2 separate regions of the Homo sapiens genome follow, and region 2 is linked to region 1. The links come from fine-mapping of genetic effects on gene expression. A gene starts in region 1. The other region holds a variant in brackets. All regions are shown on one strand. Distances are from middle to middle.

What was found. PIP is the estimated chance that this variant, and not a neighbour inherited with it, causes the effect.
Region 2: its variant is fine-mapped to the expression of AMIGO1 in putamen (GTEx, PIP 0.97).

Annotation. Positions count from the first base shown.
Region 1 is chr1:109,506,758-109,512,125 of GRCh38, reverse strand. It overlaps AMIGO1 (adhesion molecule with Ig like domain 1), which reads left to right and starts at 2,399. Exons shown (of 2, transcript NM_020703.4): 1 at 2,399-2,706; 2 at 3,127-5,368. The coding sequence starts at 3,214. The coding sequence ends at 4,695. It overlaps LOC105378893 (a long non-coding RNA gene), which reads left to right. Exons shown (of 3, transcript XR_001738179.2): 3 at 1,485-1,524. RefSeq lists silencers at 2,396-2,515, 2,576-2,725, 2,736-2,795.
Region 2 is chr1:109,909,169-109,914,536 of GRCh38, reverse strand. CSF1 (colony stimulating factor 1) reads right to left here and starts at 3,688. Exons shown (of 9, transcript NM_000757.6): 1 at 3,475-3,688; 2 at 156-278. The coding sequence starts at 3,513. RefSeq lists enhancers at 2,302-2,401, 2,478-2,978, 2,979-3,479 and silencers at 3,265-3,374, 3,425-3,594. The variant A/C (reference allele first, on the strand shown) is at 2,754.

The DNA of each region.
Region 1 (5,368 bases):
CTGGGGTGAAAAGAAAATATGCAACATGCAGATGAGGGGTGGGGTGAGAGGAGCATATGTTTCTCAGGAATATTTGTACAAAATAAAATGATGACATTTCTTTAATAATTATTGAAATGGGTGATGGGTATATGGGAGTTCATTGTACTATTCACTTTTGTGTATGTTTGAAAATTCTCAAAATTAAAAAATAGATGTAACTTCAGAGATGATGTGTGTGATAGCCAGCCTCCAAGATGGTCCCAATGATCCTCTCTTCCTGGTATTTGTGCCCTTGTGTAGTTCTTCCATATTGAATCAGGAATTGCATATGTGACCAAAGTGGAGGTGATATCCATCACTTCAAAGAGCCAGATCACTGTGACTTCTGTCTTGCTGTCTCTTGCATCTCTTGCTCTGAGGGAAGTCAGCTACCGTGTTGTGAGGAAACTCAAGCTGTCTTGTGGAGAGACCTTTATGGATAAGAATAGAGGTTTCCTGCCAACAGCCAGCCACATGAATTTAAGTGAGCCTCTATGGCCCCAGTGAAGCCTTCTAATGACTGTAGCTCCATCTAACGCATAACTGCATGAGAAACTGCCAAGCCAGAACTGTCCACCAGACTGCTCTTGAATCTGACCAACAGACACTGTGAAAGGCAATAAATGTATATTGCTGTAGGAAGTCACTAAGTTTTGGGGTAATGTGATTATGCAGCAATAGATAACTGATGCAATGTGATTTCAAGATTCTTCACACCTTGTCCTCCAAAAAGATTACCCTCCTCATCTTTTCAATGATGCCTGAAATGAACAGAACAGAACATCTTTCTCTTTTTTCTTTCTTTCTTTCTTTCTTTCTTTCTTTCTTTCTTTCTTTCTTTCTTTCTTTTTTTTTTTTTTTTTTGAGACAGGATCTTGCTCTGTCACCCAGGCTGGAATGCAGTGACACAAACATGGCTCACTGCAGCCTTGACCTCCAGGGCTCAAGTGATCCTCCGACCTCAGCCTCTCAAGTAGTGGGCACCACAGGTGCGTGCCACCATGCCTTTTTTTTTTTTAAGAGACAGAGTCTCACCATGTTGCCCAGGCTGCTCTCGAACTCCTGGGTTCAAGCAATCCTCCTGCCGCAGCCTCCCAAAGTGCTGGGATTACAGGTGTGAGCCACTGCACCTTGCAGAAAGACCTTTTCACACTATGCATAAGATTAACACGCTAATACTCCTTGAAGAGATAATATATTCACTAAAATTCATGGTAAAACATGTGACAGATATAAATTCTTTTTAAAACTCTTAGCAAGCTAATCTACTGAGACATTAATTTCAGTCTTGATCTTGCTGTTATAAGAGACTGGAACAAATAAAAAGGTAATTTCTTATGGTCCACCATCTCAAGAACAGCTAACATCTTGAATGATAAGGTCTAGGCTCTTCCTGCATCTCTCTCTTTCCTCACCCCCAAACCCAAACAACATACACTAGTAACAGCTTCTTGTTGTTTCAGGGGCCACCCTAAAGAAGAAACCCCTCCACCTCCACCACTGGCCTTCATCTTGAGGATTAGGTAACAGAGAAACTATGTTGCAATTGCTCCATAAGGGGAGTGGGGAGCTGGCACTGGTTTAGGAAGAAGGCAAGTGGCCAGACCTAAGGGCTGAATGACTTCCTCCGGGCTGGGAAGGGTTTCGGAGTTTCCAGGAATGGAAATTGTCCCTGGCTTGTATGCAGTCCGTGTGTGTGTGTGTGTGTGTGTGTGTGTGTGTGTGTGTGTGTGTAGCAGGTGGAGTGGGGAGAGGTGCATGAGGTGTCTGTAAAGGGGTGTTCTGGGGCCTGGGCTCACCAAACACCCCCTTTCCCCTCACTCCTGCGCAGCTGGCTTGCAGGCTAAGGAGCTGTGCCCTTCAGTGGTACCTCAAGGGTCATGAACTAGTAGCATCAAGACGGGGGTGGGGTGGGGGGAACCCCTCCCCCAATTTTTGAGACCCCACAGCCACAGAGAGAAGGGAGGGGGAACCTCAGAATGTGACTAATGAATTTCCCGCCAACATTGGCAGGCGGGAGCTGAGCCAGATTTCTTCAATTTGCGAAATTAAAAGACATGTGACGCCTCTTGCCCGAGTAGGTGCAGCGAATTCACTTTAGTTAGACTTTTCCTGAGAGCCGGTCTGTGTAGCGAGAAGGGTGCTGGGAGATGGGGGAATGGGGGATGGAGGAAGTTATAGCGGAGCCTAAGGGGCCAGTGCCGCTCTTCCTGCCAATTTTCGTCTTTAGCTCAGCGTCCGGAGCTCGCTGGTTGAGGGAACGACCCCGCGCGCGTCCGCCCGGCCGGCTCCGACACAAACACACGCACGTGCGCCCCGCCCCCGCCGCGCGCACGCGCCCCGAGGCTCCGGCGGCGGCGACGGGCGCGCGCGCGGTGCTCGCTGCCCCCACGCCGCTCCCTCCGCTGGGATCGCTGCGCCTCCGGCTCCCCGCACCGATCCGCGCCAGGCCTGCGGACCTGGAGGCAGCGACCGCGGTCGGTGGGCTCCGGCGGGCTCAGCGGTCGAGGCGGTGGCAGGGTGAGCGGAGCGGGGCCCCGCAAGTCCCCGGGAGGCGACGGTGCCGGGCGCGGGCCCCTGCGTAAGGTGGGCGCAGTGACAGGCCGGCCGGTGAGGCGCCGCCGGGAGAGGCCGCGACGGAGCTCCCAGACCGGCCATGGGCTGAGACACGTCCTCGCCGAGCAGGTGCAGTGACCGGAGGCCCCGGGGGGAGCCCGCCCCTACAGGCCCCGGGGACCCTCAACCCCGACCGGACGCGTCCTACCCAGCCCGGTGCCCTGTTGACCTTCCCTCAGCTCCTCCCAAAAGGCACACCGACCCCACCTCCAAACCCTGCCCGTGCCATCCCTGTGACTCCCAGCAGTCCCTGCCATCCTGTGCATACCTGCAGCCTGCACCCCTGTGACCCCAGCCCAGTAGGCCCTCGGGCCACCTCCTCTTCGGCCGATATTTACAGCCCACTGCCTGCACAGTGCCTGGAAACTACCCAGCATCTCTCTCTCCTAGCCCAAAGGGGGTGGAGGTAAGGGTGGGAGGGGAAGTGGGAGAGGGTGTCCTTCCCTCTGGAGTCCTTGGTGACCACAAACCCATCCTCTTTCTCTCAAGTGACCCTTCCGTACCCCACCAGAACATGCCCGGGTGACCTCCTCCCAGATCTTCCTTGTGGCCTTCCTCGCCCACTCCAGTGACACTATGCACCCCCACCGTGACCCGAGAGGCCTCTGGCTCCTGCTGCCGTCCTTGTCCCTGCTGCTTTTTGAGGTGGCCAGAGCTGGCCGAGCCGTGGTTAGCTGTCCTGCCGCCTGCTTGTGCGCCAGCAACATCCTCAGCTGCTCCAAGCAGCAGCTGCCCAATGTGCCCCATTCCTTGCCCAGTTACACAGCACTACTGGACCTCAGTCACAACAACCTGAGCCGCCTGCGGGCCGAGTGGACCCCCACGCGCCTGACCCAACTGCACTCCCTGCTGCTGAGCCACAACCACCTGAACTTCATCTCCTCTGAGGCCTTTTCCCCGGTACCCAACCTGCGCTACCTGGACCTCTCCTCCAACCAGCTGCGTACACTGGATGAGTTCCTGTTCAGTGACCTGCAAGTACTGGAGGTGCTGCTGCTCTACAATAACCACATCATGGCGGTGGACCGGTGCGCCTTCGATGACATGGCCCAGCTGCAGAAACTCTACTTGAGCCAGAACCAGATCTCTCGCTTCCCTCTGGAACTGGTCAAGGAAGGAGCCAAGCTACCCAAACTAACGCTCCTGGATCTCTCTTCTAACAAGCTGAAGAACTTGCCATTGCCTGACCTGCAGAAGCTGCCGGCCTGGATCAAGAATGGGCTGTACCTACATAACAACCCCCTGAACTGCGACTGTGAGCTCTACCAGCTGTTTTCACACTGGCAGTATCGGCAGCTGAGCTCCGTGATGGACTTTCAAGAGGATCTGTACTGCATGAACTCCAAGAAGCTGCACAATGTCTTCAACCTGAGTTTCCTCAACTGTGGCGAGTACAAGGAGCGTGCCTGGGAGGCCCACCTGGGTGACACCTTGATCATCAAGTGTGACACCAAGCAGCAAGGGATGACCAAGGTGTGGGTGACACCAAGTAATGAACGGGTGCTAGATGAGGTGACCAATGGCACAGTGAGTGTGTCTAAGGATGGCAGTCTTCTTTTCCAGCAGGTGCAGGTCGAGGACGGTGGTGTGTATACCTGCTATGCCATGGGAGAGACTTTCAATGAGACACTGTCTGTGGAATTGAAAGTGCACAATTTCACCTTGCACGGACACCATGACACCCTCAACACAGCCTATACCACCCTAGTGGGCTGTATCCTTAGTGTGGTCCTGGTCCTCATATACCTATACCTCACCCCTTGCCGCTGCTGGTGCCGGGGTGTAGAGAAGCCTTCCAGCCATCAAGGAGACAGCCTCAGCTCTTCCATGCTTAGTACCACACCCAACCATGATCCTATGGCTGGTGGGGACAAAGATGATGGTTTTGACCGGCGGGTGGCTTTCCTGGAACCTGCTGGACCTGGGCAGGGTCAAAACGGCAAGCTCAAGCCAGGCAACACCCTGCCAGTGCCTGAGGCCACAGGCAAGGGCCAACGGAGGATGTCGGATCCAGAATCAGTCAGCTCGGTCTTCTCTGATACGCCCATTGTGGTGTGAGCAGGATGGGTTGGTGGGGAGATTCTGCCCCAGGAGAGGTAATGCACCCCTGAAGGATATGAGGGGATGGAAGAGAGGGCTGGCTGCCCAAGGGAATGGATTCCTCCTGACCTCAAGGGAATTGGTCCCAGGTACAACAGAGAGCAAGACCCCAAACAGGGCGTGGCTGCCACGATTTTCAAATGGGGGTATATTAATCCTCAGGCAAATGCTACACCCGTACCCAAAGCCCTGCCAATTCTCAGTGTGGTAGAGGAAGAGAAGCATGTCTGAGTTGGATGGGAATGAGGAAGGAGTGAGGGGAAGAACAGATTCCCTAAACTTTCATGAGGTCATCCCTAGCTCCTTAAGAGAAAAACATTTAGAAAAAAAAATTTTTTCTATCTCTGCCCACCCACACCTGTGATGTTGTGTGTGTTGGGGGAGCTTCCACAGGAGCCACACTGGGGAAAAGCTGTAGTATCTTCTTTGTTTAGCAAGTCAAACTTCACAGCTGGGGAAGTTGAAAACCTTTGGAAAATGAGTCAGGAAAAGGCTGAGACCTCAATCGGTAACAATTCCCCAAAGCTGTTGTAAGACTTTGCATTAAAGCCTTCCTTTTTCCTGATGTGCCCTGGGTGGATGGATCTTTGCAGGAGCCTGGCCTGCTGCCTTTTAGTTACAACAGCAATGT
Region 2 (5,368 bases), 400 kb before region 1:
AAGGGTATCACTGGTGGAGCTAGTGGGAACCACAAGCAATGTCCCGCACTGCCCTATTTTCCTGCCTGCAACTGCTCTCTTTGACCTGCTCCCTGGCTCCTGCCTTCATTTCCCCAGTGGGGAGAAGGTAGAATACAGCATGGCCACACACTCACCAGCCGCTGCAGAGACTGCAGGTGTCCACTCCCAATCATGTGGCTACAGTACTCCGACACCTCCTCGGTGATACTCCTGCTCGCCAGGAGACAGACCAACAACAGCAGGGAGCCCAGCCATGTCTGTGACAGAGAGGGTGTCATTTCTCCCCAGGTCTCACTCTCCCCAGTTATCCCCATGCCCTGCTCAACGCAGAAAAACAAAGGCCTCATATCTACAATGCTACAGGCTCTGCCCCTTACCTCAGGATACAGCATCCCTCAAATCCAGCTTTCCCAGGATTTCTAGCAGCCACAGCACAACCTTGTTCTCCCATGAAAACAACCCAGATGTCACCTTCTACAAGAAGCCTTCCCAGATTAAGCCAGCCAAACCTAACTATACATTGAACTAATACTGACACAGATGGTGTGCCTACCAGCCTAAATTTTAATGACACAGGAAACTCGAGAGCAGGACTTGCATCTACCCATTTTTTTCTGTCTCTGCAACATCAACACTGAGCCAAGCACTTTTTGAACTGCCCTCAAGTTCATGTTCATGCACCGGCTTTCAGATGGCAAGCCAGAGACAGCTCCCCTGGGCCCAGCATTTCCTCCCACCTGGTTCCATGCAGATCTGGCTCTGCCACTGGAAAAACTGTGGGATCAAACTCAGTTTCACTGGAACTCATCCCTTGCCAGAGACATCTTGGAGCCCTGGGTGTGTGTTTCAAAAGGAGCCCAGCTGATTAATCAGAGGCACCAGTGCCAGTAATGGGCCATCCCTTGCCTGGCACCTGCCTATTTGAGCACCATCAGGCTTTGCCTCCAGCCAGCCACCTCTTATCATGGCAGAGAAGTTTTCTGAGACCCCTCTTCTCTCCCAGCACCTACCTGGCCCAGTAGTTGCTCAGCCCCAGAGTGATGGGACTGGCTCCTGATGCCCTGTCTTTCCCCTTCCTTCCTCTCTTCCTTCTCTTCACTGGGGTCTCCTCATCCCTACCCCTGGCCCTAGGTCTCTCCTTCTTCAGCCAAAAGCAGACAGACTCTTGGGCTTTCTTTCTCCAGCTTGAGGTCACCTCCTGAGAGCTCCCAAGCCTCCTGGCGGCTGATGCCCCCAGATTCAGGGAAATGCTGGCAGGGTAGGGTGAAGGTTGACACTATCCTGGACTCTGGGTTTTGCCTCAATAATCCAGATGTTGAGACAAATACTGCAAATAAGTTGCTCACTGGAAAAACACAACGAGGCTATGAAACAGCCCACAACAATGTGCTAATCTACATATCACCAAAAGCCCAAATGCTTGCCAGCTCTTCTGGGGAGGAGAAGGCAGCTCTGGCTGGGTGACCAGGGAGACTGCAGAGAGCAGGGACCTCAGTGAGGCCTTGAAAGATGGGGAGAAGGTGATGGCAGGAGAGGGGTGGGAGCCATGGAAGGAAGAGCCAAAGGATAGTTTCATACCACTCAGCACAGGGACTGTGAGGATCCTGGCTGATCTGAGGGAGGGAAAGTGTGGAAGAGGGGGACGGCAGTCACGGGGGCTGGGGGGACTTCAGGCTCTGTTGGGGAGGTTGCCCTGGGTGGGAATAATGGCCCAGGTACTCAGAAACCTTAGGTTCAGGAATGATTGGAGGAAACTGGGCCACTAGACGGTGTATCTACCCCAGACTGGCTGCCACTCAAGGTCTGGAGTGAATGGTATGGATGAAAGGGACCGCTCAGGAAGACAACCTCCCTGGAGGAGAGCAAGGTGGGAGCAATGCTTAACCCCAAGGGCTGTCTGGCTTTGATGACATTTGAGGCATCAGTGTGGGGAAAGTGCAGCCACTACATGAGAGGCTGACTTCGAAGCTGGCCAAAGGGGATACCCCTGGACCTGGGGCCTCCATTCTGCCTCAGGAGGATCTGGACAGACAGTGGGGGGTTAACACTCTGGCTTGCATCTGGCTGGGCAGGCTCTCCTCTGACTGCCTCTTCCTCCCACCCCTAGCCCTGGCTTCTGCCTGGGGAGCAGCCCTCAGAAGGAATCTCTGCTGCAGGCTCAGAGATGCTAGGACACCTCAGTCCAGCTGTCCAGCCTCCTCTGCCACCTATCCTATTCCATTTCATCTTCCCCCTCAACAAGGCCTCTGGAGAGACCTGGCAGAACCGGGCCCTTGGACTTCCCCTGTCTAAACACAGCCCCCTTGTCTTTCTCTTCTTTCCTCATGGTCTCCCCTTCAGCCCCGAAGCTTTGCTTTCTGCCTATGGCTAACCCTTCTCCCTTCCCCTCTCAACTCTATCTCCTCTCTCTCAGTGAGGCACTTTCTTTCTGTGGACCCACTCTTCCCTTTCTCTCTCACCTCACCTGCAGCCCGCTCTCCTCTACCCCCAAATAATTTTCTGCTCTTTTCCCCCCAGGTTTCCCCTCTCATTTTCTTCCAGGACTCCTCAGAAGCAAATCTATTATGAGCCCACTGACTGGTCATGAACAGTGCCACCCTCACTTTCTATGGCTGCATCTGCTACCGCCACAGTTGGGGCAGGGCGTCCCTTACGCAGTCAGGAGCAGACCCTGCCCCTGGACACAGCTCTGCAACACCAAACCCTCTTTCCATTTTCCTCAAGCACTGCAA[A/C]CCACCATAAACCACCACAAAGCCCAGAATCTCCCCAACCGATGAAACCAGAATTTGCAAGAAAAAGAGATTCTGAGCTAGCCCCAAGCAGCCCCGGGGGTGGGGGGCTGTTTGCCGGCTGTTGCCGTCCCCCACCCCACCCCCCAAACAGCCACCCAAGTCCTCCGTAGCTCCTGCCTGTGGGCTGGAACAAGCAGTGGCTTGCCCCTCTCCGTCCCTCTGCCAGCAAGTCCCTGGCGTTCTATAAGCTGGTTGACCCCCTGAACTTTCCCTGCCCAGAAGCGCCCACTCCTCAGCAGGGCCTTGGAAGCACGTGTGTGGCCGATGAGGAAGGTGCCCACCGGGGAGGGCACACACTCAGCGCACAGCCACTCCGCCCGTGCCTTGGTGGTGGCGGGTAGGGAGAGAGGCAGGGCACCCTGGCTGAGCGGGGGCTCCTGCCTGCAGGTGGCTCAGTGTTCCCCTCCGTGCAATGGGGTGAGCAGCCCTCCGTTTCCCAGGGAAGCCTGGCAGTCCCGGTGCAGCTGCAGGGCCGCCACCGGCCTCCGCCCTGGCGCCAGGGCCCAGTCCGTGCGCAAAGGCGGTTCGTCCGCGGCGGGAACGCCGGGCCAGTGCAGCCGGCGCGCCCAGGCTGTCGGCTCCGAGGGGCCGCTCCCGGCCGCCTGGCCGCCGAGCCCCCGCCCCAGCCCGTCCCGGGCCCAGCGCCGCGGCCGTCGCTTACCGTGGGAGGGCAGCGCCCGGCGGCGCCCGGCGCGGTCATACGGGCAGCTGGGTCCCGGCCGGGCGCGTCGGCCGCCCTCGCTCGCTCGCTCGCTCGCTGGCTGCTGCGGAGTGGGCGCCCCGGCCGAGGGCCGCACCGCTGTCCTGGGATGCGGAGAGCGGCTCTGGCGCCGAGAGGACCCAGGCAAACTTTCACTTTCCCCGGGCCGAGCCTCACTGGCCAGCCCTCGGCACAGCCTTTTAAGAGAGGACTGGGGGGCATGTGGTTTATGGGAAATCACCCTGGCCAGGCGCCAGACACACACATACACACACACACACACACACTGACACAGACACACACACTCCAGAGGCCCACTCAGCCGCCTTCCCCCGCCTCCCCTCCCCCACCCGCCGGCCGGCCAGCCCCGCTCGCGCGTCTTCCTAGTCACCCTCTGTCTTCTGCGCTGCACTTCCAAGCCTTCAGCAAACGAGCGCGGGCTCCACCGCGTCCCCACCCTGCCTTCCCCGCGCCCTCTGCGGACCGACCCTTTCCTTCCGCGCTCTCCAGGCTGATTCAGTGCTAGCGCTCTATGATCGTCCCAAGGGACTTTCCCTCCAGGCCTGAAAATCCCCAAATCTTAGCAGAAAACGGACCGAGAGCAGGGACAAGCACTGGGAAGGGAGGGAAATCCTTTGAAGACGCCCCCACCCCATTCTCGGAGTGCCGAAAGGAGTCCAGTGTTACTTGCTCCCTCGTGGAGCCTGAGTCAGCAGGTTTGCCGGCAGCCCCCTTCTTCCTCTGCAGCCCCCAAGCAGCCCGGCCAGCTTCAAGTCCCATTCTGGGAGGGAGGCCAGCTACCTGGCCAGGAAGGGAGCAGCTGTGTCCTGTGACAGCAAGCTGGGGGGCTCTTCCCTGGGTGCCAGCAGACACTTCAAGGCACCTGACCCTTAGATGATGAAAATGCTGGCTGGTACCCATGCTCTCTCCTGGAGGCAAAATCCAACTCAGATTGGAAAGGTCCTGCACCTGGACCCTAGATTTCCCTGGATGTTTTTGGAAATTGCACTTACTGAGGTGATTAATCACGTTTTGTTTCTACATGAGAATGAGTCTAAGTGAGGACTAGTAGGATGAGCCTAAGCCTATTAATTATAATGCCAACTTCAGGAGATTTTTCTTTCTTCAATTCATTATGATTCAATTCCTCTGTGAGGTTGCCCGTTTCCACCCCCTGGGAAATAAAGGATATGTGGCCTGCTCTTGAAGAGGAGTCTCTTGTCAGTAGCGCTACATATCCTTCACTCCAATCCTAGGCAATAATTTTACACCCGAATGCCTTTGCTCAGACTGGTCCCTCTGCCTGGAATGCTCCTTTCTCCACATGGCTGAAGACAAACTCCTCATCATTTCAGGCTGAAATTGCATCTCATCCTCCACCAGCAAAGCCTTCTGTGACTCTCCTGGCAGAGCAAAGGGTCCTTTTCCTGTGTTCCCATTGGACTTGGCTCATTCCTCAATGCTGGCTCTGATAAGTCATTTGCCATCCATTCATTCTCCACAGTACTTTTCGAAGTGTTTAAGGTGGTACCGATGGTTACATTCTGTCCCCACCCTAGACCGAGACTTCTTCCAGGTGGCACCCATGCTCAGTCACCTCTGGATCAATGGTACCTAGCACATAATAGGTACCAAGTTAATGATGGCTGAGTTGAATGATGCCATTAGAGAATACTTTGTTCTTTTGACAAATATGTGCTACCAGATGCTAGGCACCGTGCTGGGCCCTGGGGATACAACAATGACATGGTCACTGTACAATAATGATTTCAGATAACATGTTGACACCACAGTTCTTAAGACTGATAAAAGGTTAGAGGAAGTAACCTGAGAAAGATAAACCAACAGACTTGTT